5 separate regions of the Homo sapiens genome follow, and regions 1, 3, 4 and 5 are each linked to region 2. The links come from fine-mapping of genetic effects on gene expression. A gene starts in region 2. Each other region holds a variant in brackets. All regions are shown on one strand. Distances are from middle to middle.

Region 1 (5,102 bases), 100 kb after region 2:
CTTCCTCTTTTCCATTTTGTTTTGAGGCTTCAGAGTCTAGTGGGAGAGGAAATGCTGGAGATGACCTCGCTCATCCTTTCCCATCTTCCTATTGAGTAAATGGAATGTGCCAGCTTCTCCAATCTGTGCTTTTTTCTGGAAGCTTCAGGATTTTGAGCTTTGTCCAGGAGGCCTTTCAAGTGGCACTGGACTTGTTTCTAAAAAGGTTCACTTCAAAAGTACAAATGTAGAGGGATACCCAGGACAGGGAAGGGTGCAGGTACTAACCACTCAGCAGCAGGAGCAGTTTCTACCTCGTGACACCTATGGAGCCCTCTTATCTCTGGAAACAGTAAGTAGAGTCATCTTGTGGCAGGAGTTGGTGGGGTTGTGGTTTTAGGAGAGTGTTGAAGGTCTGGGATGAGCTCTGTGGGCTGATGGAAGGAGTGGGGAGACAGCAGTGAACAGGCTACGGGGCAGCACTGTGGCCTGTTGTGGTTGAGGGAGCAGAGAAGGCACATCTACAGATTCACCACAGCTGGGCTTTGGACAGGGGAGAATTGAAAGAAAAAAAACATGAGAGAACTGAAGGCACCAGCATGGTATAGTGTCTTTGGCATCAGACAAACCTGTGTTCTGTACCTGGCTCCACCACCAAGTAATGCTGTGATTTTGGGGGAAATCTCTCTAAGCTTGAGTTTTCTCATCTGTCCTATGAGAAAAAATAATACCACCTGTTACAATTGTGAAAACAGAAAACTATAATGTATGACATGTGTGGTGCTTAGTAAATACTGCGTGAAACCTGTTCCCATTCCTTTCTTTTAACAGAACAAAGATTAAAGGTTAAGTCCTGTCCCAGAGGATCTGCCCTTGATGTGGATGAGAAGAATATCAGAAATTTCTGAGCAATAGGGGAAAATGCGAATACCAATGACTGTGAAGGCTCAGTGACATCAGAGGATGGGGTGTGGGGAGGGAAACAGCTAAAAGGGGGATGGGGTGCTGGAGTCAGAGAGTAGTTGCTGGGCTGGAGATTTCAGAAGTCATGACATTCTGGGTGCAGCTTTACTGCTCTAAGAAGGAATGGGAGTGTTGGCATTGGAAGGGAAGACTGAGCACATTCAGAGTGATTTGAAATATGGCATGGTCAGGAGGGCAGTAGGTGTGAGCAGTAGAGGGAGGGGCTTGTGTCTCTAGGGGAATGAAAGTAACATGCTGTGGTGTTGGGGAGACTGGCCTGGGAGCAGCATGGAGGAACTTTAGGGTTGGTACAGGATGAGGCTGGGGCATGATTAGCCTCCTTTTCAGAGGGCCTCAGGAAAAGGCAGTGTGCACAGAAAGCCAGGCTACTTGTTGGAGGGTAGAGGTTTCCAGAGCTTGAACCTAGATAGTCGCTGGCTGTGGCTGCCACAGATGGTAAGGTTGGCATGTCCCTCTGACGGGGCATCTGGTTCTTCCATGAGAGGCAGGTGCCAGTTCTTCTTCTTGTACCTAAAAACTGCCTCCTTCTCCCTTCACTTCTCCTGTCCCCTGTGAACACATACTAACTAGGCCCCTCCCTTCCTTCTGAAACCTCACCTCCTCAGGAAGCCCTCAAAGCTTGCAGTCTCCAGATTCCTCACCCAGGATGTGAAGGCAGCCCTCAGACTCCTGGCCTTTGCTATTCTTGTCATTCCAGCCTCCAGAGCTTTGCACTGCTTTTCTGGAGCTACAACTTAAGGAATCAATTTCACTTATTTATCTCTTGGCCTTTGCCTTGGCAGTGAGGTCTTAATGACAATAAACTCAAACCTGTGCCTTGAGCTTTAAGAACTACTTCATCTCCCTCTATATGCGGAAACATGGAAAGAAAAGCTGTTACAGGAATAGAAGATTCAGCTTGGACCAGCCCCAGAGAGCAGCTTCACCTAGGAGTCTTATGGGTGCTTTGGGTGCTGCTTTTGTGTCTCCAAAGCAAGCCCAGGCCCAGCATTAATCTTTGTCATCTTAGTTGTCCATCTTTTCCATGGTCTGCTCCCTAGGGCCTATACTGAGCTGCTCCATATGACCTTGACCATCCAGGAAACAACAGCTCTCCTTAGACCTGAATCCTTGTTCCGAGGAACCCACATCCATGTCCACCTGTCACCCATCTTGCTTTTGTGAACTACAGAAGAGCAGCCCCCCAGTGTCTGTAGAACTTACTCATTACCTAACTCAAATGTTCTGTTGCTGGGCACAGGGACCTTAAGCTCCCTTCACCAGTCTTCAGCTGAGACCCAAGTGCTCCTTCTCGGGCCCTAAGTGAGGGATGTGGTCTCTTTAGGGCCGAGCCAGCTTCTGGCAAAGCAGAAGAAAGGAAAATCTGTAAACTCAGTAATGGAGCAGATATACCCAAAGTCTTTTTTAGTGTGTTTCCGTGGAAGATACCCATAAGGTAATGTGAATTTTGCTTCTCCCCATTAGCTGATAGTTTATTCACTTGTTTTTCTAATTCTTATGCAAAGACTGCATCTGATGCCTCATTTCCCTCTGAGGCTTTGGGAGGTTACTTTGGCTTCCTCAGAGCACAGGGCTCAGCATACAAATCGCATAACGTAATTGCTACTGATACTGGCCTCTAGTTACCACACTGCTGTACAAGAGGACATTGGAATCTGACCCCCAGCACCCAGCCCTCCAGCTCTGACCAACTCTCTTTTCCTTCCAGGGAATGTTCATTTCTTCTCTAGTGGCCTTCTGTTTTCTCACTGTCGTCAT[A/G]GAAGTATCATCATTTCCAAGGATCACATGAATTCCATTTCCTTCTATGATGGGGTAGGTGTTTTACTAGTCAGTGGCTTTTTTGGTCGGAAAGTTGCTCACACTTTTGAGGGGAAAACTAAATAACTCCTTTCTCCCCTCCACTACCACAGGGCAGTATGTCAGGAACCAGCACAGCCACTGAGGCAGGCAGGGAGGGAGGTCGTGGAGAGGCCTGGGCATTCTCAAGACGCTTACGAGCCTCATCAACCTCACTGCTCTGTAAAGGGCTTACCTAGAAAGGGCTTCTGGTCAGAAGGGCCAGCAGCTCCCCATGCCCAATTCATTCACCCTAAAGAGGACTATAAAGCAGGCTGAGAAGGCCTCCAGTGGCCCCTCTTGGGTGGCCTCCAGGTCCAGGGGCTCAAGGCTCACCCACTGAAAAATCAGAAAGGAGCTGCATCCTGTGGTATTGATGAGGCTCAGCATACACATTAGCATGGACAGGATTGTAAGTGAGCCAGAGAGGGAGAGAAATGGCTCACTTTCCCCGTGAGAGTTTAGCCCCTCCTCCCTCACACACCCAGACTTCCTCTCCAGCTCCATAAAAGTTCCACTGTCCTATAACAATCCTCTAAGTTCACCAGTCTGCACCAACACTTCCCATTCACCTTAAGGGGAAGATGGTAGCTATGGGTTTCCCCTAGCCTTTACCCTGTGGCCAAGGCACAGCTCGTCTCAGTGCAACACCAGAGCAGAGGGCAGGCCCACCACTCTGCCTGGTCTCAGCCTCAAAACCAGTCTGTCTGGGAGCTAGGACAGAGACTATGTGAGGTATTTTGGTCAGATGGCTCAGAAAACGAATTCTGTGAGCAAGTTTTTCTTCCATATAGAGCCTGCAGCCTTAAAGGCTGTTCAGAAATGTAGGCAGACCAATTGGACACATTGGATGGCCCTATTAGATTAAAGTGTTGCTGTTAGATTAAAGAGTCTTCCAATATCAGGGAAGAAAGAATGCATCATGAAAAGCACAGTACTGGGATGATAAGTAGCTAATTTCGACAAAAAATAGACTCTTACCTCTACTAAAAATCAAAATGAACTTCTGAGGGATTAAAATTAAATATATTTAAATTTCACAAATAGAATATAAAAATGAATATTTATTAAACCTCTAGGGGTTAGAAGACTTCTGAAGCTTAGAAACAATACAAGAAATTCTAAAGGAAAAGTTTGTCAAATTTGACCAGTTACTGATTTTTTTTTTTTTTTTGAGACAGAGTCTCGCTCTGTTGCCCAGGCTGGAGTGCAGTGGTGCGATCTCGACTCACTGCAAGCTCTGCCTCCCTGGTTCACGCCATTCTCCCGCGTCAGCCTCCTGAGTAGCTGAGACTACAGGCGCCTGCCACCACGCCCGGCTAATTTTGTTTTTGTATTTTTAGTAGAGACGGGGTTTCACTATGTTAGCCAGGACAGTCTCGATCTCCTGACCTCGTGATCCACTCACCTCGGCCTCCCAAAGTGCTGGGATTACAGGCATGAGCCACCACACCCAGCTGACCAGTTACTGATTTTTAAAAATTTTATGCTGATAATTTAACTTATTAAAGTATACTGTAAATACAACTAACTGTATCCATTTAAAGGTTTGGCAGATGTGTACATTCATGAAACCACCTTTACTATCAAACCAAAATGTTTTCTCATGCCCTTTTTCATCTTTCCCTCCACTCCTGGGTTCAGACAACCACTGATTAGCTTTTGTCCCTATATATTAGTTTGCATTTTCTAGAATGTTATATAAATGAACATCATCTATTCTGTAACCTTTGAGTCTGACATTTTCCACTCAACATAGTGATTTTTAGATTCATCCATGTTGTGTATGTAAATAGCTGTGTTCTCTTTATTGCTAAGTAGTATTCCATTGTATGGGTATATCATAAAATTTGTCAGACTAATTAGTAATGCAAAAACCCTTTAAAAAGTATTTTAGGGGATGGGGAGGGGTAGATCGATGAATACAAAGTTAGAAAGGATGAGTAAATTCTAGTGTTCTGTTGCACAGTAGGGTGCCTGCAGTCAACAATAAGGTGTTCAGATCTCACAATAGCTAGAAGAGAAGATTCTGAATGATAAATGTTTGAGTTGATGGATTTCTCATTCATTACCCTGATGTAATCATTACATAATGTATACATGTATTGAAACAATATATTATACCCCATAAATATGTGCATATTATGTATTAATTAAAAATAAAAAAATTTTTTTATGGCTAGGCACAGTGGCTCATGCCTGTAATCCCAGCACCTTGGGAGACTGGAGCAGGTGGATCACCTGAGGTCAGGAGTTCAAGACCAGCCTGGCCAATATGGTGAAACCCCACCTCTACTATACAA
Region 2 (5,102 bases):
ATGTGGTATATCCATTCAATGTAATAATATTCAACCATGAAAAGGAACAAAATTCTGATACATGCTGCAACATGGATGAACCTTATAAACATTATGCTAAATGGAAGAAGCCAGTCATGAAAAACCATATATTGAATGATGCTGATAACATGAAATGTCCAGAATAGGCAAATTAAAAGGTTAGTGGTTGCCTAGGGCTGGGGTGGTTGGGAAGAAATGGAGGAATGACTGCTAATAGGTACAGGATTTTCCTGTTGGAGTGATAAAAATGTTCTAAAATTGATTGTGGTGGTGGTTGCACAAATCTGTGCCTATACTCATTGATTTTTTTTTTTTTTTTTGAGACAGGGTCTCACTCAGTCCCCCATGCTGGAGTGCAGTGGCCTGATCTTAACTCACTGCATCCTAGACCTCCCAGGCTCAAGCGATCCTCCCATCTCAGTCTCCTGAATAGCTGCGACTACAGACACATGCCACTATGCCTGGCCAATTTGTGTGTGTGTGCATATATGAAATATATTTGTATACATAAATTATAATATAAATATATATTTTTATAAATAAACTATATATATATAGAGAGAGAGAGACAGAGAGATGAGGTTTTGCCACGTTGCCCAGGCTGGTCTCAAACTCTTGGGCTCAAGAAATCCACTTGTCTTAGTCTCCCAAATTGCTGGGACTGCAGGCGTGCACCACCACGTGTAGCCCCGTTGAATTGTTTTTAGAGCTGATTTTCAGAGCTTTTGCACCGATGGGAAGTTATCTCTAAATAATGGTGGTTACTTGTTCATGACTCTGGACTTGAGCTAAAAAATTGATCACTGCAAGCATAGAAAGAATTGAAAGAGTTGTATTTGATAAATCTCATGACGGTGTCATAGCGTCTGTCATAAGTCCAAACTCATACCAAATAGTAACTGGGAATTGAATCTTGAGCTGTGAACTTTGAACTCGGACAAAACAATAAATTGAACTCAATATCTGATGCAAAAAAAAAGTGAATTTCTTCTCTGCTTGCAAGGGAGAGCGGTACTTGTAAGGTACAGCCTCTCTGAACAAAGCCAGAGCTGATCTTATAAAAGGTTTTGAAGGCCGGGCGCGGCTCACGCCTGTAATACCAGCACTTTGGGAGGCCAAGGCTGGCGATTCACTTGAGGCCAGGAGTTCAAGACCAGCCTGGCCAACATGGCGAAACTCTGTCTCTACTAAAAATACAAAAAATTAGCCAGGCTTGGTGGCACAGGCCTGTAATCCCAGCTACTTGGGAAGCTGAGGCACAAGAATCGCTTGAACCAGGAGGCAGAGGTTGCAGTGATCTGAGATCACGCCACTGCACTCCAGCCTGAGCAACAGAGTGCGACTCTGTCTCCAAAAAAAAAGGAGAAAAAGAAAAAAAAGGCCGGGCGCGATGGCTCAGGCCTGTAATCCCAGCACTTTGGGAGGCCAAGGCAGGCGGATCAACTGAGGTCAGGAGTTTGAGACCAGTCTGGCCAACATGGCAAAACCCGTCTCTACTAAAAATACAAAAATGAGCCAGGCGTGGTGGCGGGAGCCTGTAATCCCAGCTACTCGGTAGGCTGAGGTAGGAGAATCGCTTGAACCGGGAGGCAGAGGTTGCAGTGAGCCGAGATCGCGCCACTGCACTCCAGCCTGGGCGACAGAATGAGACTCAGTCTGGGAAAGAAAAAAAAATGGTTTTGGAAATATTCGCCTTCAGGGATTGGCTGTCTTTCCGAATCAGAAGTGGAGTGCGGCAGCTGAGTACCCACTGACTTTCGGAAGCCTGGTCGCTGGTGTCAGGCACTTGTTGATTGGCTATTGTCGGAGGCTTAGAGCGGTCACTGATTGGCTGACTTTCAGAAGCGTGGGGTTGTCATTGATTTACTAAGAAGCATAGTTACCGGAGTGAGGCTATCGCTGATTGGCTGATTTTCAGAGCTGCTGCACCGACGAGAAGTTATCTCTAAATAATGGTGGTTATTTGTTCACGACTCCGGACTTGAGCTAAAAAAGTATTTTCCTTTCTTGAATATGAAAGACGAGCACTTTAAATTCCTACTCCCTTCTGGTCTTCCCTCAGCCAAACCTGAAGGAGACACCATAGGGATTGTCCAAATCTTCATTAGTGTAGGAAGGATTTTCAGCCAGTGTTGTAATTTAAGTGATCTAGCACCAATTACTGTGGGAGAAAAATAGCTCTAATTATTGCAATTTAGTGTAAAAAGATGAATACAGGACATTTAAGGCATTCCGACGAGGTCAACGAAGGACGCAGGCCAATAATCATTAAATACGTCCTGTATATACAGGACTCCTGGCAACTATCAGTGCAGTATTTCCCAAGTTTCTTGTACATGTCCCTGCAGAAACCGGTAGAGCTAGGATCTTAACAGTAAAGGTTAGGGGTCTTCTGGGATCCTGTGCGCCTCTAACGCTCATGCCCTGCGCAGGGCTGGGTGCGCACTGCTGCGCTAACCCGAGGCCGGCTAGGAATCTATTGGATGTTTGAAGGGTGGGTGCGGAATTGATGACCAGGAAGCGGGAAGACACCGTTCCGGAGAACAGGGAAGCGAGCCGGGTACTGGGGAGGTGCGCTGGGTACTGGGGAGGTGCGCTGGATCCTGACGCCGGAGCGGAAGACTTCGCTGGAGGCCGGGGCTGGTCGGGCGGGGCGGGGCGGGCAGAGGCGGAGGGGCGGGGCCGGGCTGGGAGAGGCTCCGCCCCCGGGCGCGTCCGTGTGCGTGGCCGGGGGGCGCCGCGCAGAGCCCCGCTCTATGATGCCGGGCTTGAGGACGAGGCCGGGCGGCGCTGTGGCAACCCTCACCCTGCGGACACGCGCTCCCAACATCCGGTCCGGCGGCCTCGCAGCTTAAGAAGTGGGGTCCCTGTGGCCGTGCGCCGACCCCCAACTCCAGCCGCTCCCAACGCCCCCATCCGCTCTCGGTGCGCGCGCCCCCTCCACGCCCCCGCCCCCGCCCCCGCCGGGCCCGCGCGCCGCGCCCCCTCCCACCCGGCACGCCCTGCCGCCCCGCCCGGCCGCAGCTAGCGTGGAGCCGCCCTGCGGGCAACTGAGACCCTCGCAGCTGCACCGTCCTCCTCCGCCGCCAGTCGTCCGCCGCCATGGACGTGTACCCCCCGCGCCGGCAGGGGCTGCCCCGCGCTCGGTCCCCTGGCGGCTCCAGCCGCGGGTCACCCTCCGTCAGGTACGCGGGGCAGAGGCAGCCGAGGGGCGGCCGGGCGGGGGATGCGGGCTGTCGGGGTCCGGCGACGCCTCCCGCCGCAGGGCGTGGTCCGACATGGCTTCCTCGGGACGGTTCTTTGCTGAACGGCTCAGGGAGGAATTTTTCCCAGGAACGGCGCCCTCTGTAGAGGCCCCACAATGGCTCCCCTTTGGACAACCCCGCAACGGTTTCCCCACAATGGCTCCCCCACAGACAACCCTGCAACGGTTTCCCCACAATGGCTTCCCTAGGGACAGCGATTCCCTGTGAAGACACTGTTATGACGTCCTCACCCCCATAGAACGTTTCTCCCAGGAAGGATTCTTCTACACAGAACCCCACAGAGGCTTCCCTATGAATAACTCACTCGCCTTCCCCAGGGAATGTTTCCCTCAGAAACTGCTACTCTACAGACCTCACACCTCCACACACACAATAGCTCCCTCGTGTAGAACCCCCAAATGGATTACCTAGAAAGCCCCCTCCCGTGGGTCTCTAGAGCCTTTGCCCTTGACAACGGCTTCCTTAAAGAGTGTCCCCCGCCCCCTACGTACATAATGACAGCATCTCCCCTGTCGCGCGTTTCCCCAGCTCCCCCTGCCTCAGCCTGCATCGCGACGCCCCCTCACTCCACAATAGGGAGCTCGGGTTGGGAGGAAGTAGAGGTATTAGGGACGCAGGAGGAAAAACTGGATAAATAGGGGAAAGAGGCCTAGAACCTCCGAAAGCGGCGGACGCCAGGCCCCTTACCGTAGAGACACAGTCCCAAGCTACCTCAGTATGGGGAGGGGGTGATCGTGGGGAGCGTTCCCCGCCCCCTTTAGATATAGGAAGATCCGTTTCCGATTTCTGTGCCCTATGCGTTTGGTGCTGATCTTGTTGGTCTGGGCATTGTTTGTGATGGAGCTGGTGTGGGGCGCCGGCGCAGTGTGGAGGTTGGAATGATGGAGGGGTTGCAGCAGAGACCTTTGAGAAGGAGAGGGAGAGGGGGAATGCGAGCGATGAGCTTTGGTACTGCTAAACTGTCATTAAAACAGGAGAGGGTTTTGTTGTTGTTTGCTTTTTCTTATTCTAGCCACATAGCAAAGCAAATATATTGTTCCCTTGAAAGGAGGTTGCCAATCTACATGTTAAAACAGTTTTCTTATATTCTTGTTATGGTACTTAAGGCATATGTTTTAACTTTGCTTGCTGATCTGATTTTTGGGGTTGTTTGTTTGCTTTAACTAGACCAAATTATTGGAGAACAAGAAACTGATTCTTAGAAACCTGTTTCTTTTTTACTTCCCTGCATTCCTTTCCACAACCCAGAATCCAGTATATGTTTGTTGAACAAATAAAGGATAGAGAAGGTGGGGGGTAGATACCAATGAAACATTGCATTTAGGAGTCCTAAATTGCTTCGAATCTGTCAGGTGACATTTTTGAACTCCTGCTCTGCCCTTCAGTGTAATTCCTTGTGGGCTTTACAGTTCCAAGTTTAACTGCTTATAGTAACGCATCTCCAATCCTTTGCAACATTTCTGCCAGTTTCACTGTCTGAAGCAGAAAGTATTTGAACTTGTATAGACATTGCATAGGATACTTTAGAACAGCCATCCGTTAAATCTAGGCTCTGTGTGGACTTGAGGTTTATCCCAGATCATCTTGAGCTTAGGAATTTGGATTTGAGTCTGTTGAGATCTTTAGGGGGAAAAAAATCATCTCTACCTTAGAATCTGTCTCTTAAATGCTGCCTTTCTTGTTTTTAGTAGCATGGCCATGTGCTTTTTATTTATTCTTTTAAAGGTAGTGATTCTATGTTCAAAGAAGTATGCTGGCTCACTTTACTGATCATACCCGAACTCCAAATCTTCTATCAAGTGGTTTGAATAAAAT
Region 3 (5,102 bases), 750 kb before region 2:
GCCGCAGCCTCACAATTCTGGGGTGAAGGAGAACAGCTCAGTCAGCACTTTCCGCTGACTCTTTCAAAACCACTTACAAGAACTGAGGCCTGTGAGCTCAGCCGGGCGCAGTTCCCCCTCAGCGGCCCCTCGTGACTCTGCACAAAGCCCAACTGTGCTTCAGCTCCAGCCCCGGGGAGGGGGTGGGGTCTCCGGCAAGCCCATCCTGCCTCCTGAGCCACAGGGTCCCACTCTGCCCAGCCTGGGACCTGTGCTTTCTGCCCACAAAGAGACACGACAGCCCCAGTGTCAGAGCTGTCTGAGCCGTGCTGGATCCAGGCAGCCTTCCTCCCTGAAGGTGGAGACGGGCCTTCCTCCACTGTAAACCCTTTTCCAGCACAAATACCTCTCTTATGGTGTCCACACAACGTAATTTATCATAGAGCCAAGGTGGCATGCATGATCACAAAACGAAAAAAGGAAAATATCCAAAGAAAAATCGAGTCACCAGATGAACCTCACAGCAAACCTCTATTTTGCCCCTCCTGTGCCAGGCCCTTTGCTGGGCACTTTCCATTCACTGCATCCTTTAATACTCATAAACTCTCTGCTGCCCATTTTACAGATGAGGAAACAGGCCCCAAGAGGTTCAGAGGCATGACAGACGCCACCTGGATGGAGTGAGGGGCAGGGCAGGGCAACACTGCTCAATCCCTGCTCCGACCTCAGGCCCCCCTACTCAGCCTCCCCAGGGGTGCGGCAGGCCCGAGGACTGCCCTGGCTCAACGATTCTCCCATCTTACTCCTCCCCACATACTGATATGCACACACTGTGCCAGGCACTTGGGGCTGGCAGGAGTCATCTCAAGGCCTGATGGTTCACTCCAGCTTCACTGCCAAAGCCTGGGGCTGCCACCGGGAAGCTACCTGCTTTCTGGCCTGGGCGCTTAGTGGGGTCCCTGCAGGTCACCCTGGTCTCCCTGCCCCATGCAGCTGGATTAGGCTTGCCAGGCACTAAACTAGCCAGGCCTCAGTCCTTCACCCTCGATCTCCTCCTCCATAAATAGGGCCAGGGACAAGTTCTAATTGCATTGGCCAGCACAAAAGAAAATTCAAAAAGCAAGTAACTCATAACTGCCTCTAGACGGTCCTCGATCACTGGCCCGAGACCTTCCCCTCCTGGTGACTTCAGGGTACATTAACTGTGCTCTCCTAAGAAGACCACAGGATTAACCAATAAAGCACTTTCCATAGAATTCAACCATGAAGCACAGTCCCCCACCCACGCGAGGGCTGGAACCAGGTCTCAAAAGCCACTGGGGTTCATTTCAGAATGCACACAGGGGCCATGCGCCCATGATTTCATCCATAAGACCCCTATGAAGTGGAGACGCTGAGTTTGGACATAAACATATTCTTTAGGCCCTTTTGTGGAGTTCAAAGAGAGAATAACTCACTAGCTTTTGAAGCATCAAGAAAGGTCTGTTCTTAAAATCCTATCATCATTGTTATCACTCTATTTTTAGCTGAATACACCTGAGATACAGAGTGCAGTGCCAAGCATTTTGTGTGGAATACCTCAATCCTCACATCAATACCCCCATAGTACAGAGGAGGCAACTGAGATTCAGAGAGGTTCCACAGCCTGCTATCAGCCTGCCTCTAAATTTTACTTAGTAATATATTAAGCCTCAGGCCTTGCTCTTTTTAAAATCTAATGAAGAAGCAGCTGGGCGCAGTGGCTCACACCTGTAATCTCAGCACTTTGGGAGGTCGAAGTGGGCGGATCACTTGAAGTCAGGAGTTTGAGACCAGCCTGGCCAACATAGTGAAACCCCGTCTCCACTAAAAATACCAAAATTAGCCGGGCGTGGTGGCAGGCACCTGTAATCCTAGCTACTTGGGAGGCTAAGGCAGGAGAATCGCTTGAACCCAGGGGGCAGAGGTTGCAGTGAGCCAAGATCGCGCCATTGCACTCCAAGAGTGAAACTCTGTCTCAAAAACAAAAAAAAATCTAATGAAGAAGTCAAGTTCATTATCTTTCCTTGAGTTACTTTTTAAACTCCAAACCTTTTCAGATTAACTCTCAAGGTTTTGCATTGTGTATGATTTTTTTTTTTTAATTTTCCAAAATAAGAGAGAGTAAAAGGTCCCTGTGTGTTTAACATTTAAAGGCATCATTTAAAAATATTTCCTAAGAATATATGCCCCTTGGTGGTGCTGGGTGTCTCCTGCTTGAGTCATCCTAAAATCTAGCCAACTCAGCCTGCAAGGAGTATCACCACCACCCGCCAGGATCAGAGGTGCGCTGGCTGAGCTGGGCTGTCCCGGAGATCTGGTTATGGGTGGGGAGCAGTTGAAGGTATGAGGACAGGCTCTGAGAGAGCCATGGGGTTGACGAAAGGGCATCGAGACAGATGTCCCAGAAACTGAGTGAGACCCATCATGCCTCACTCAGGCCCCCGGGGCTGCATGGGGAAGACAGGACCCATGTGTCTGCCAGGGCCTAGCACAGAGTTGGCAGGGGTGGCTAGATTCTTTGTTCTGTTTTCTAATAAATTGCAACTCACTTCCAAGTTCTTGTTCTTCTGACTTTAAGTCACACCTTCCTTAATGCCGTCCCTCAAGAAGCAGGTGGAGAAGAAGGGAATCTGGACTAAGGGGTGCTGCAATGCCCCCAGCTAGGCCACCATGCTCCACCTGAATCCAGATGCTTTTCCTCATCCTCCAACCTCCCAGCCCCAGATTTAGAGAGCACTGGGCTCCTACATGCTTGAGGAAGAAAGACAAAGGGGCAAAGGAGGACAAGAGAGGGGAGCTAGGGCTGGGTAGGAAAATCCACTGAGCATGCCCCACCAGGGCCTTCGGGTCAGGTCGGAGGGCCAATGTTGCCCCACGCACCACCGTAGCTCCTCCTGGGTATTTAAAATACCACACCCCGACCGGCGCTGTGGCTCACACCTGT[C/A]ATCCCAGCACTTTGGGAGGCCAAGGCGGGCGGATCACGAGGTCAGGAGATCGAGACCATCCTGGCTAACAAGGTGAAACACCATCTCTACTAAAAATACAAAAAATTAGCCGGGCGTGGTGGCGGGCGCCTGTAGTCCCAGCTACTCGGGAGGCTGAGGCAGGAGAATGGCGTGAACCCGGGAGGCGGAGGTTGCAGTGAGCCGAGATCGCGCCGCTGCACTCCAGCCTGGGCGACAGAGCGAGACTCCAACTCAAAAAAAATAAAAAATAAAAAATACCACAGCCCATCTCCCCCACCTGAGCTGCTGAACAAAGAGCCTCACACCACAGAGGAAAGGAGGTGTGGCAGAGGCGAGGCAGGGTAGCCTCACTGACTGCCCTGAGAGTCTGAGAATGAGGGTCACGTCCGCAACTTGGCCCCTCCCCCAGCTTCATGTCCATGAAGGGGCACAGCACCGCCCCCTCCCACAGCCCACCATCACTCACACCCTGCCTCATGTCTCACTAATGCACTGCTCTGATCACATCACTGCCCTGCTCAAAACCTTCTGTGGGCTGCCACAGCCCAGTGAACGAAGGTAGTCCCTGATGCCTCCTCCCTGCCCGCAGGCCACTTGTCCCCTACACACACCCACCAGGATCCTCTGACTCTCAGACTCAAACCTGTGACTTCTCATTCTGTCCAGATCTCCCCACCTAACTGGCCATTCCTCCAGGAAGCCAGTCCTGCTAGCTACCCACACCCTCTTTCTTCTCCTCTGCAGGCTACTCTGGTCTAACCAGGACCCCAACCTAAGCCTTGTGCCGCTTTCTGCTGGCTCTTGCTTTCTTCCCTCATGTCCACGATGACAGGGCCCTCCCCAGGGTCCCTCCTCCAGCCATGTCAAATCCAGTAGTAAGAGCAGCCAACCGGTATTAGAGTGTCACAACAACCCAGCCACCCTAGGAGGGAGGTAATATTACCCTCATGGTACAAATGAGGGAACGGAGGCACAGAGAGGCTTAGCTTATTGTCCAGAGTTCACAACCCTGCTGTGTTAACCTCTGAGATGAAAGGCTGGGGAGAACTTGCAAAGCGAGGAAATGCCCGGGAGGTATAAGGAAAAGGCCCTCTCAGAATCCAGAAGATGGCCGGGCACAGCGGCTCACATCTGTAATCCTAGCACTTTGGGAGGCCAAGGTGAGCAGATCACCTGAGGCCAGGAGTTCCAGACCAGCCTGGGCAACACGGTGAAACCCCACCTCTACTAAAAACACAAAAATTAGCAGGGCGTGGTGGTGAGCGCCTGTAATCCCAGCTACTCGGGAGGCTGAGGCAAGAGAATTGCTTGAACCCAGGAGGTGGAGGTTGCAATGAGCTGAGATTGCGCCACTGCACTCCAGCCTGCGTGACAGAGTGAGGCTCCATCTCAAAAAAAAGAAAAAGAATCCAGAAGACCCAGGCCCAGCTACCTGGGGATCCCAGGCACCAGACAGGTCCTTCCAGATCCTTCCTCATTCACCCAGTGAGGCAGAGCCATTGCCACAAGAACCCAGGGCTGGCTCTCGGCCCAGAAATACCAGGGAGAAAAGGAAGGATGGCAGGGAGCTTCCTGGTAGAGGTGGGATGGGCACATCTGAGGGCCCTGGTCAGTTGAGGTCCCACCAGGCACTGGCAGGGGGGTAGCAGTTGCTACACCCAAAGGAAGGTGGGGAGGCAGACATGGGGGGCAAAGATTTACAGATGAAGAAACTGAGGCCTCAGAGGGGAGCCTGGCATCTCTCTCTCTGCAGTGCCCTCTTCTTCTACTGATTGTCCAAATGTGCCCATCCCACCAAGTCTACCTCTACCAGGAAGTCCACCTGTGCTACCATGTTCGTGGCCTTCCAGTGAGCAGCATCTTTCCACATCAGCTTTTCCCAGCAGGTGTTTTCCTGGTGGGTGGGACATTATTGGCAGTCATTTAAAAAAAAGATTTCCACGGTCAGATCAGGCTGGGAAACACTAAACAGTTTCTTTTCTACAGGACTTGTCAGGACCTTTAATTCTCTTAAATGTATTCTGAATCTCCCGTAGGGTAGTGGAGTGAATTTGCCAGTTTCTACCCTTATTTGTCCCCTGAACGCTTGAGATTGCGCAGAACAGTCTTTGAGAAATGTTATCCCCTCCCATCCCG
Region 4 (5,102 bases), 150 kb after region 2:
GCGGCCGTTGCAGTGAGCCGAGATTGTGCCACTGCACTCCAGCCTGGGCGACAGAGTGAAACTCCGTCTCAATAAAATAAATAAATAAATATTTTTATTTCTTTCTTCTTTTTATTTTTTGAGACAATGTCTCACTTTGTCACCTAATCCAGAGTATAGTGGTTTGATCTCGGCTCACTGCATCCTTGACCTCCCAGGCTCAAGCGATCATCCTACCTCAGCCTCCCAAGTAGCTGGGACTATAGGCGTGAACCACCATGCCTGGCTGATTTTTTTTCTTTTTTGTGGAGACAAGGTCTCCCTATGTTGCCCAGGCTGGTCTCGAATTCCCGGGCTCAAGTGATCCTCCTGCCTCGGCCTCCCAAAGTGCTGGAATTAAGGTATTAGCCACCACACCCAGCCTCTTGTTTATTTAGATCTGCTATTGACTCTTTTTTTGTTCAAATTTAACCTCGCTTTTTTCCGGATCCTTTCTCATCCTGCCTTTCAGGGAGCCCTTGCCCACTTCTTGGGTCTCCAGTCACTCCTAGCCCTCATCTCCTTAGCATGTAACACTTTTTCCCATTCTCATCTGTGTGACCTTCGTGCAACACTGCTGTACTGGTTTTTTTGTCTGTTTTGTTTTGTTTTTGAGACAGGGTCTTGCTCTGTTGCCCAGGCTGGAGTGCAGTAGTGCAATCCTAGGTCACTGCCCACCCCAGCCTCCCAAGTAACTGGGACTACAGGAACATACCATCACACCCAGCTAATTTTTTTGTTGTACTGTTGGCTGTGCCCTCCTCCCTTGGCCTCTGAGGCCTCTGCTGAGAGCCCCCCACTTCTACCAAGGGGGTTTCTTTGCTTTTCCTCAACCACCTCTTCCATAACAGCTATTCCAGCAACCACCAGGGACTATGTGGATGTCTCACGCTCAGGGTCTTAGAGACTTTCAAATGCCACAAGTGCAGAGTCAAACTCTTCCTCTTCTCCCACCTATAAACCTTTTTTTTCTCTTGTGTTTCCCTTCTGGGATAATAGTGTCCACCTGATCACCCAGATCAGCCAAGCCAGAAACTTATTTTGTTCCTCTCTGTCTCTCTCTCTTACTCCATCCTTTCTTTTCCTTTTTAAAAAACAAAACAAAATGGGATCTCCCTCTGTCACCCAGGCTGGAGTACAGTGGCGCAATCTCAGCTCACTGCAGCCTTGAATTCCTGGGCTCAAGTGCTCCTCCTGCCTCAGCCTCCTGAGTAGCTGGGACCACAAGCATGAGCCACTGTGCCCACCTACTCCATCCTTTCTAAGCTGCCACCAGTCACATCAGTTCTGTCTCTTGCATTTTCTCATGAATCTATCCCAACCATCTGCATTGTCACAGTCTTAGCATAGCTGTATCCTTTCAAGGCAGGCTCTCAGGGACTAATGTGTATTCTCCTTACAGACTCTGAGAGGACCATGGAGGTCTGCTACAACACACTGGCCAACTCCTTGAGCATCATGCCAGTTTTGGAAGGACCCACACCACCACCAGACTCCAAAAGCGTATCTCAAGACAGCAGCGGGCAGCAGGAGTGCTACCTTGTGTTCATCGGCTGCTCCCTGAAGGAAGACAGCATCAAGGACTGGCTGCGGCAGTCAGCTAAGCAGGTGGTTTCCAGAGCCCAGACAGACCTGACACAGATGTGACCAGACACCTCAGAGCTGCTGTTGGCCCTGAGAAGCCCCGCCACTGCCTCCCTGATGCCTCCCCACTGGGCTTCCTCTCCCTGGCCCAGCCAGCACTTGCAGGGACACTTTGAGAGAGGGAGGAAGCCACTGAGAGCAAACTCCAGGCAGGCCTGCTATGTTGTTTGCTTTGTGAGCCAGGTTCTCTGCAAGGTTTGGGTGCTAAGCCTTGTAGCACAGCCTTGGGGGTTTAGTTCATCCTAGAACTCTGGGACTAGAGTTAGCTGGGGCCTGGCTCTTCTGCAGATGCTCACTAGGGACCTGTCTTTATGCTGAGGGATGGGCTGCCTCACTTGGATAAGCTTCTAAACGGTTCTTGACTGTGGGGCCTCAGACTGCCCCTTTGTCTGCCTCTCATTGGTAGGGTTGAGGGATAAGAATCTACAAAGAGGCACGACCATTCCCATTTACGAAAACACTGGGCTGTCCTCTGCTGCTTGTTCCCTGCTGGCTCACAGGGCTCTGTGATGGGAAAGTGGTTTTCTCAAAGAGCAGACTAGACAGAATATTATATCCAGGCCATAGCGCACGTGCTTTCCCCACTGCTGAGATCTTAGTTGTGTAATAGAGCCCAGAGCCCTCCCCTGCCCATGCACTCCATGAGTTCTGCTGGGACCTGACCCTCCACTCCCCATCTCTGCAGAAGCCTCAGAGGAAAGCCCTGAAGACCAGGGGGATGCTGACGCAACAGGAGATCAGGAGCATCCACGTGAGTGCCTTGCCCTGGCTTCTCCCCTCGGTGGCCCAGGGCTGTCCTCGGCTTGCCTAGCTCTGTATTTTGGATTCTCTGAGTGAGGAGCTGTTTGTAGGACATGCTGGAGGTCTTGCTTCTCCCAGGCCACAGAGGGAAGCTGCGTACAGAATTCTGGCCTTTGCAGCCTCAGTGAGGAGGGCACAGGAGACCTCTGGTGTGACCTGGGCATCAGATTGAGTAGAGCCAGTACTTGTGGG[A/C]GAAGCTGATGACCAGAAGCCCTGCCTTGGCACCTTGTTCAAGCAACTGCAGAAGACCTATGTTACAGATGAACCAGCTAGAGCCCAGGCAAAAACTGTCTGGATCCAGAGGCTGCTCATAGGAAGGCTGTGGAACCTGAGGCCAGGATAAGAGGCTGATTGAGAGACCCCCTTGATGAGCCTCCCAGCCTCCAGGCTCTGACCCCCAGCCTCTGCTTCAGTCGCCATGCTCACTGGGGCCTTTTCCTGAGGGGTTTGGGGACAAAAAGCTAAAAAGGACACAGAGTCTAGGTCCCCAGGATGCCAGTAATGAGCAGGTGGGGCAGGAAAGTATTCTGGGACTCCAGGAGCCCCTGCTTTGGATTTGAGGAGGCCCCTTTCATAAACAGCTCCTATAGGCCCGGACAACCTGGGTGCTCCTGGGGAGGACAACATGGGCATAAGGTAGTCCTTATAATGCATGTTCCCCTGAAAGCCAACCGTGAACAAGGAGTTAAGTACAGGTAGTTTATTTTGGAAGTGATTCTAGGAGACACTAAATAGGAAACAGGAGGATGAAAGAGGAGAGGGGGAAACAGCCAATAAAGAGTGTGTTTGTGGCCGGGCATGGTGGCTCACGCCTGTAATCCCAGCACTTTGGGAGGCTGAGGTGGGTGGATCACTTGAGGTCAGGAGTTCAAGACCAGCCTGATCAATATGGTGAAACCCTGTCTGTACTAAAAATACAAAAATTAGCCAGGCGTGGTGGCGCATGCCTGTAATCCCAGCTACTCGGGAGGCTGAGGCAGGAGAATTGCATGAACCCAGGAGATGGAGGTTGCAGTGAGCCAAGATCACGCCACTGCACTCCAACCTGGGTGACAAAGCAAGACTCTATCTCAAAAAAATAAATAAATAAATAAAAGAGTGTGTTTGCACATCAGTACCACTGCACACCGTGGGAACTTCATCCCACTAGGACCTCCCAGAGCTCCTCACCTGAGAGGTGGGGAACCACCTCAGGCAGGGCTTGAGGTTTGCCGGGGGTGTTAGCTTCCTAGCTCCTCTGTATAGCAGAGTAGTCTATCTTGCTAGGGAAATAGACTTGTTTGTTTTAATGAGTGAGTGAAGTATAGAAAGTAGTCAGATAATTATTACAGGTCTCTTTTCTCCTACAGGTAAAACGCCACTTGGAACCCCTACCTGCAGGCTACTTTTATAATGGCACCCAATTTGTTAACTTCTTTGGTGACAAAACTGATTTTCACCCACGTATCCTTGGAACAGCGTGGTCCCTGTGTGGAACCCGGGCAGTGAGGCTGGGAGTGTGTGACCCTGTCTGCAAAGCGGTTGTCTGCCAGAGCCATGCATTTGAGCCCCAGGAGCACTCTGCATGTCCACTGATGGGTCAGGAATGCACAGGGGCAAACCTCAGGGGCGAACTTTTCATTTCAGTCTCTAAAGCTGTTAAAGTTAAATTGCTCCTTTATTGAGTGATTGCTAATGTGACTCTGGGTTATAGTTTTTTGGTTTTGTCTTGTTTTAATTTTTTTTTGGAGATGGAGTTTCACTCTTGCTGCCCAGGCTGGAGTGCAATGGCGCAATCTCAGCTCACTGCAACCTCCGTCTCCCAGGTTCAAGTGATTCTCCTGCCTCAGCCTCCCGAGTAGCTGGGATTACAGGCGCCTGCCGCCGTGCCCGGCTAATTTTGTATTTTTAGTAGAAACGGAGTTTCTCCATGTTGGTCAGGCTGGTCTCAAACGCCTGACCTCAGGTGATCCTCCCACCTCAGCCTCCTGAAGTGCTGGGATTACAGACATGAGCCACCGCGCCCAGCTTAGAGACTAGGTCTCGCCATGTTGCCCAGGCTGGTCTCAAACTCCTGGGCTCAAGTGATCCATCTACCTCAGCCTCCCAAATTGCTAGTATGGCAGGCATGAGCCACTGCGCCCAGCCTGTGAGTTATAGTTTGGATGCAGCTGCGGTGATATCCTGAAGTCTGTCGTCATCAGAGTCACGATTTACAAGTCGAAGACAGCCTAATTACAACAGTTAACCTGTGAAAAGATGGATAGGGCTGAAGCTGAAGGGCTCAGTTCTAGGACCTCATTAACATCCCTGTGACAACAGCCATTGCATTCTTTGTAGCTGTGGTGCTGCCAGTATATACAAAGAGTCCATCAGGTTCCCTCTCTATGGGCCAGACACTCACTTCCTCAGCAAACCCCCCTCACCTGCCTACAGGCCGCTCTGGGCTCAGGCAGCCTCCCTTGTCCTCCAGGCTCAGAGCTCTCTTCCTTAATGAGATACCAGTCATGGACCAGTTCATGAATGACTACGTGGAAGAAGCCAACCGGGAAATTGAGAAGTATAACCAGGAGCTGGAACAGCAGGAGTATCATGACCTCTTTGAGCTGAAGCCCTAGAGGAAGGCTGGGCCCGTACGTCCTGCAGAATGTCCACCTTGG
Region 5 (5,102 bases), 140 kb after region 2:
CCTGACCAACATGGAGAAACTCCATCTCTGCTAAAAAATATAAAATTAGCCCGGCATGATGGTGCATGCCTGTAATCCCAGCTACTCGGGAGGCCGGGAGTCTGAGGCAGGGGAATCACTTGAACCCAGGAGGCGGAGGTTGTGGTGAGCTGAGATTGCACCATTGCACTCCAGCCAGGGCAACAAGAGCGAAACTCCATCTCAAGAAATAATAATAATAAAAAAATAATTAAACTACTCTCTATTAGTAAATGGGTTGATGATGAGCATTGAATCTTTTTTAAGTATAGAATTATAACACCTGTGAGAATTCTATTACAAAATAGAATATAAATGTTGAAAGCCTATCTATGAAATTATATTTTACAAAAAATTGGCAGAGGAGAGATACTCTTTACATCTTTCAGAATGGGAGATTGATAAAGTTTAAAGCTATTAAATCAAGTTATAAAGGGTTAAGTATACTCTTTAAAGATATAAAAGTGACCACTAGAGGAACTGAAAATCCTAATGAAGCTGGGTGCCGTGGCTCACGCCCGTAATCCCAGCACTTTAGAGGAGGCCAAGGCATGAGGATCACTTGAGCCCAGGAGTTTGAGACCAGTCTGGGCAACAAAATGAGACCCAGTGTCTAAAAAAAATAAAAAAATTAGCCAAGCATGGTGGCACGCACACCTGTGGTCCCAGCTACACAGGAGGCTGAGGCAGGAGGATTGCTTGAGCCCAGGAGGTCAATGCTTCAGTGAGCCACTGAATATATAAATATATATAATATGTAGACTTCCTTTGGTTCCTGATTCAAAAATTATTAACTGAGAAAACATTTATAAGACAGAGAAATTTGAACACAGACTGGATTTTTTTATATTAAGGAGTTCATTGTTAATATGTTTAGAGTCCTTATATTATGGAAATTCACGTTGAAGTATTTTTGTTTGAAATAATTGGGTATCTGGGATTGACTTCAAAATCATACAGTAGGGGAGCCGGGGATGAGCTGGGTGGAGTGTAGATGAAATACGATTAGCTGAGTGTTGGTAGTTCCTGAAACCAGGTGATGGGAGTTCATTCTACTATTTTTCTAGTTGTGTATGTTTGAAATTTTCTACGATATTAAGAAGTACAGCTGGGTGCGGTGGCTCACACCTGTAATCCCAGCACTTTGGGAGGCCGAGGCAGGCAGATCACGAGGTCGGGAGTTCGAGACCAGCCTGACCAACATGGAGAAACCCCATCTCTACTAAAAATACAAAATAAGCTGGGCATGGTGGCGCGCACCAGTAATCCCAGCTACTTAGGAGGCTGAGGCAGGAGAATTACTTGAACATGGGAGGTGGAGACTGTAGTGAGCTGAGATTGCAACATTGCACTCCAACCTGGACAACAAGAGTGAAACTCCGTCTCAAAAAAAAAAAAAGAAGAAGTAAATAAAAATTATTGAATAACAAAAATGCAAAATGAATAATCTTATATATGCGCTATGATTATAACTGTTAAAATAGGAATGAATATGGAAGGGGTATTATAATTATCTTGGGGTGGTGAAGTGTGGTAAGTTTCCTGATCTCCAAATTCTCTGTGGTCCTGTGAATTTTACTTCTGTATTTTCACCAAAAGGTTGGGAGTGATCATGGCCCACCCTGCAACCTCTTCTTACATGGGCCACCCTTTCTTACCACGTGACTAAAATCTGTTAGCATTTATCTTGGAATCATGTGGCTCCCTGTGCACAGTATCTTGGCAGTGCACTCTTTGAGGATATAATGAATAACCCCTGTTATATGGTGAGTTTTTGATAATTGTGTTGTTCTGAACTGGTGAAGGTAAATGGCACCAGTTCCTGATGATGCTAAATACAGGATGTGTGAAAAGGCCCTTTGACTAAGAATTCCAAGTATCAGCTAGATACCAGAATTAAAATAATAGAGGAGGCCGGGTGCAATGGCTCATGTCTGTAATCCCAGCACTTTGGGAGGCTGAGGTGGGCTGATCACCTGAGGTCAGGAGTTCAAGACCAGCCTAGCCAACATGGTGAAACCCCGTCTCTACTAAAAATACAAAAATTAGCCAGGCATGGTTGCGGGTTCCTGTAATTCCTGCTACTCAAGAGGCTGAGGCAGGAGAATTGCTTGAACCCTGGAGGCTGAGGTTGCAGTAAGCTGAGATCGCACCACTGCACTCCAGCCTGGGCAACAGAGTGAGACACCGTCTTAAAAAAAAAAAAAAAAAAGATAGAGGAAGTTAGGGGTTAGGTAGTAAGGCAGCTACAGACTTGAAGCTATTCATTCCAAGAGGTGGCAGTGCCGGGAAGTGGGAAGAGAATGATAGCTGTTTATGTTGGTATTGGGGTGTAAGGGTTGTCTCCATCAGGAGACTACTGGAAGGCATGATTAGGGGATGGAGCAAGGGCTCACGTTTGTGTGAGCCTTCACCCCTAACCAGGACTGTGAAGGCTAAACTGTCCTTGGTTTTATTCCCAGGCCTGGTGAGTAACGTGGTATTCACCAGTCACACCACGGAGCAGCGGCACCCTCTCCTTGTTCAGCTGCAGAGCCTCATCAGGGCTGCCAATCCTGCTGCAGCCTTCATTCTTGCAGAAAATGGGATTGTCACCAGGTAATCTATAGATTCACTCTGCAAGACCAGTTGCTTTCTCAGATACAGCACTCTGTCTGTGGCCCACAGAGTCTTTCTACTGTATCTAAGACCTAAACATTTGGAGAAGTCAGTTTTTGAGCCAGGTGCGGTGGCACGCACCTATAGTCCCAGCTACTCGGGAGGCTGAGAAGGGAGGATCACTTGAATCCAGGAATTGGAGGCTGCAGTGAGCAATGATTGTGTCAGTGCATTCCACAGCCTGAGAGACAGAGCAAGACCCCATCTCTTTAAAAAAAAAAAAAAAAAAA[G/AG]CAGGCTGGGCACAATGGCTCGTGCCTGTAATCTCAGCATTTTGGGTGGCTGAGGTGGGAGGATCTTGAGTCAGGAGTTTGAGACCAGCCTGGACAATATAGTGATACTCCATCTCGAAAAAGAAAAAATATATTGGAAAAAGAAAAAAAACAGTTTTTGAAGTGTTTTTTTTTTTTTTGAGACGGAGTCTCCCTCTGTCGTCCAGGCTGGAGTGCAGTGGCGCGATCTCGGCTCACTGCAAGCTCCGCCTCCCAGGTTCACGCCATTCTCCTGCCTCAGCCTCCTGAGTAGCTGGGACTACAGGCGCCCGCCACCACGCCCGGCTAATTTTGTTTTTGTATTTTTAGTAGAGACGGGGTTTCACCATGTTAGCCAGGATGGTCTCAATCTCCTGACCTTGTGTTCCGCCTGCCTCGGCCTCCCAAAGTGCTGGGATTACAGGCGTGAGGCACCACGCCTGGCCGAAGTGCTTTAGATGCTCTGTAAAAATCACCAAGAAGACCCCATCGTGTACCATTTTGAGGCATTTTGTTTTGATCCATTCACATTCTCATCCATTGAAGGATGGTAGCCAAGATTCTCTTAACATCCTTGTATTAAAGTGTGAAAGAAATGGCATAGAGAACGTAGAGAAGGGTCGGATGTGATGGCTCAACCTGTAATCCCAGCACTTAGGGAGCCCAAAACTCCTTGCAGGAGTTCAAGACCAGCCTGGGTAAAATAGTGACACTCTGTCTCTACCAAAACAGTTTTTTAAAAAAACAGCCAGCATGGTTGTGCATGTCTGTAGTCTCAGCTACTCAGGAGGCTGGGCAGGAGGATTGCCTGAGCCCAGGAGTTTAGGGTTATACTGAGCCATGATCACACCATTGCACTCCAGCCTGAGCGAAGTAGTGAGACTTTGTCTATTAAAAAAAAAAAAAAAAAGTGGCCGGGTGCAGTGGCTCACGCCTGTAATCCCAACACTTTGGGAGGCCAAGGCAGGCGGATCACAAGGTCAGGAGATTGAGACCATCCTTGTTAACACGGTGGAACCCCGCCTCTATATTTAAAAAAATACAGAAATTAGCCAGGTGTGGTGGCAGGCACCTGTAGCCCCAGCTACTTGGGAGGCTGAGGGAGGAGAACGGCGTGAACCTGGGAGGCAGAGCTTGCAGTGAGCCAAGACCGCACCACTGCACTCCAGCCAGCCTGGGCAACAGAGCCTCTGTCTCAAAAAAAAAAAAAAAAAAAAAAAAGTAACATAGAGATATTATCTCTTTACTTCATGGACTTGGGTTCAAATTACAAACTAAAAATAGAGAATTAGTGATTTTGTTTGTGTACACACATATACGAGGAGAAAACACCTGGTTATATAGCTGTTTTGTTTGCTCAATTCAGATAAAAGGTTATATACCTTTTTAATGTAGTTTTGACTTTTGAACTATGTAGATATTTTATGTATTCAAAAATTAAATAAAGGAGGGAAAAAACTAAATTAAATACAAACCAAAAAAAGCGAATCTAGGCTGGGTGCAGTGGCTCACGCCTGTAATCCCAGCACTTTGGGAGGCCAAGGCAGGCAGATCACGAAGTCAGGAGTTCGAGACCAGCCCTACCAACATGGTGAAACCCTGTCTCTACTAAAAATACAAAACTTAGCTGGGCATGGTGGCGCATGCCTATAATCCCAGCTACTCAGGAGACTGAGGCAAGAGAATCGCTTAAACCCAGGAGGCAGAGGTTGCAGTGAGCCAAGATCGTACCATTGCACTCCAGGTGGGCGACAAAGAGAAACTCCATCTCAAAAAAAAAAAGGGGCCGGGCACAGTGATTCATGCCTGTAATCCCAACACTTTGGGAGGGCGAGGCGGGCGTATCACCTGAGGTCAGGAGTTCAAGACCAGCCCAGCCTGGCCAACATGGCGAAACCCCGCCTCTACTAAAAATACAAAAAATTGGCCAGGCGTGGTGCCAGGCACCTGTAATCCCAGCTACTCAGGAGGCTGAGGCAGGAGAATTGATTGAACCTGGGAGGCGGAGGTTGCAGTGAGCCAAGATCATGCCATTGCACTCCAGCCTGGGCAACAAGAATGAAACTCCATCTCAAAATTAAAAAAAAAAAAAAAAAGTAAACCTATCTGTATATCAAAGTAATAACAGCCACACCAAGAAAAGTATTTAATTCAAGTAACTTTTGAACATAATCCTCT

Which allele goes with the higher level. Alleles are on the strand shown, and positions count from the first base shown. SD is a standard deviation of normalised expression in the study named. Not every link is listed here.
For the expression in fibroblasts of the gene that starts at base 3,012 in region 2, allele A in region 4 goes with a lower level than allele C (moderate effect, 0.46 SD a copy in GTEx).

The links. PIP is the estimated chance that this variant, and not a neighbour inherited with it, causes the effect.
Region 1: its variant is fine-mapped to the expression of DNAAF9 in fibroblasts (GTEx, PIP 0.91).
Region 3: its variant is fine-mapped to the expression of DNAAF9 in prefrontal cortex (GTEx, PIP 0.97).
Region 4: its variant is fine-mapped to the expression of DNAAF9 in fibroblasts (GTEx, PIP above 0.99).
Region 5: its variant is fine-mapped to the expression of DNAAF9 in whole blood (INTERVAL, PIP 0.95).

Annotation. Positions count from the first base shown.
Region 1 is chr20:3,302,113-3,307,214 of GRCh38, reverse strand. DNAAF9 (dynein axonemal assembly factor 9) reads left to right here. Exons shown (of 37, transcript NM_001009984.3): 21 at 2,672-2,775. Among named protein-coding and RNA genes, the nearest start is that of SLC4A11, 65 kb to the right of the region's middle. The variant A/G (reference allele first, on the strand shown) is at 2,722.
Region 2 is chr20:3,405,579-3,410,680 of GRCh38, reverse strand. It overlaps DNAAF9 (dynein axonemal assembly factor 9), which reads left to right and starts at 3,012. Exons shown (of 37, transcript NM_001009984.3): 1 at 3,012-3,206. The coding sequence starts at 3,124. RefSeq lists enhancers at 1,611-2,112, 2,489-2,688 and silencers at 2,679-2,928, 2,969-3,208, 3,269-3,348.
Region 3 is chr20:4,156,016-4,161,117 of GRCh38, reverse strand. The region is part of intron 1 of SMOX (spermine oxidase); the gene reads right to left. LOC124904861 (a long non-coding RNA gene) reads left to right here. Exons shown (of 2, transcript XR_007067504.1): 2 at 1-2,555. Among named protein-coding and RNA genes, the nearest start is that of SMOX, 9.7 kb to the right of the region's middle. RefSeq lists enhancers at 1-354, 2,981-3,481, 5,010-5,102 and a cis regulatory region at 5,094. The variant C/A (reference allele first, on the strand shown) is at 2,945.
Region 4 is chr20:3,252,530-3,257,631 of GRCh38, reverse strand. It overlaps DNAAF9 (dynein axonemal assembly factor 9), which reads left to right. Exons shown (of 37, transcript NM_001009984.3): 34 at 1,421-1,626; 35 at 2,348-2,413; 36 at 3,813-3,906; 37 at 4,948-5,102. The coding sequence ends at 5,060. Among named protein-coding and RNA genes, the nearest start is that of SLC4A11, 16 kb to the right of the region's middle. The variant A/C (reference allele first, on the strand shown) is at 2,656.
Region 5 is chr20:3,267,941-3,273,042 of GRCh38, reverse strand. It overlaps DNAAF9 (dynein axonemal assembly factor 9), which reads left to right. Exons shown (of 37, transcript NM_001009984.3): 30 at 2,481-2,616. Among named protein-coding and RNA genes, the nearest start is that of SLC4A11, 31 kb to the right of the region's middle. The variant G/AG (reference allele first, on the strand shown) is at 2,907.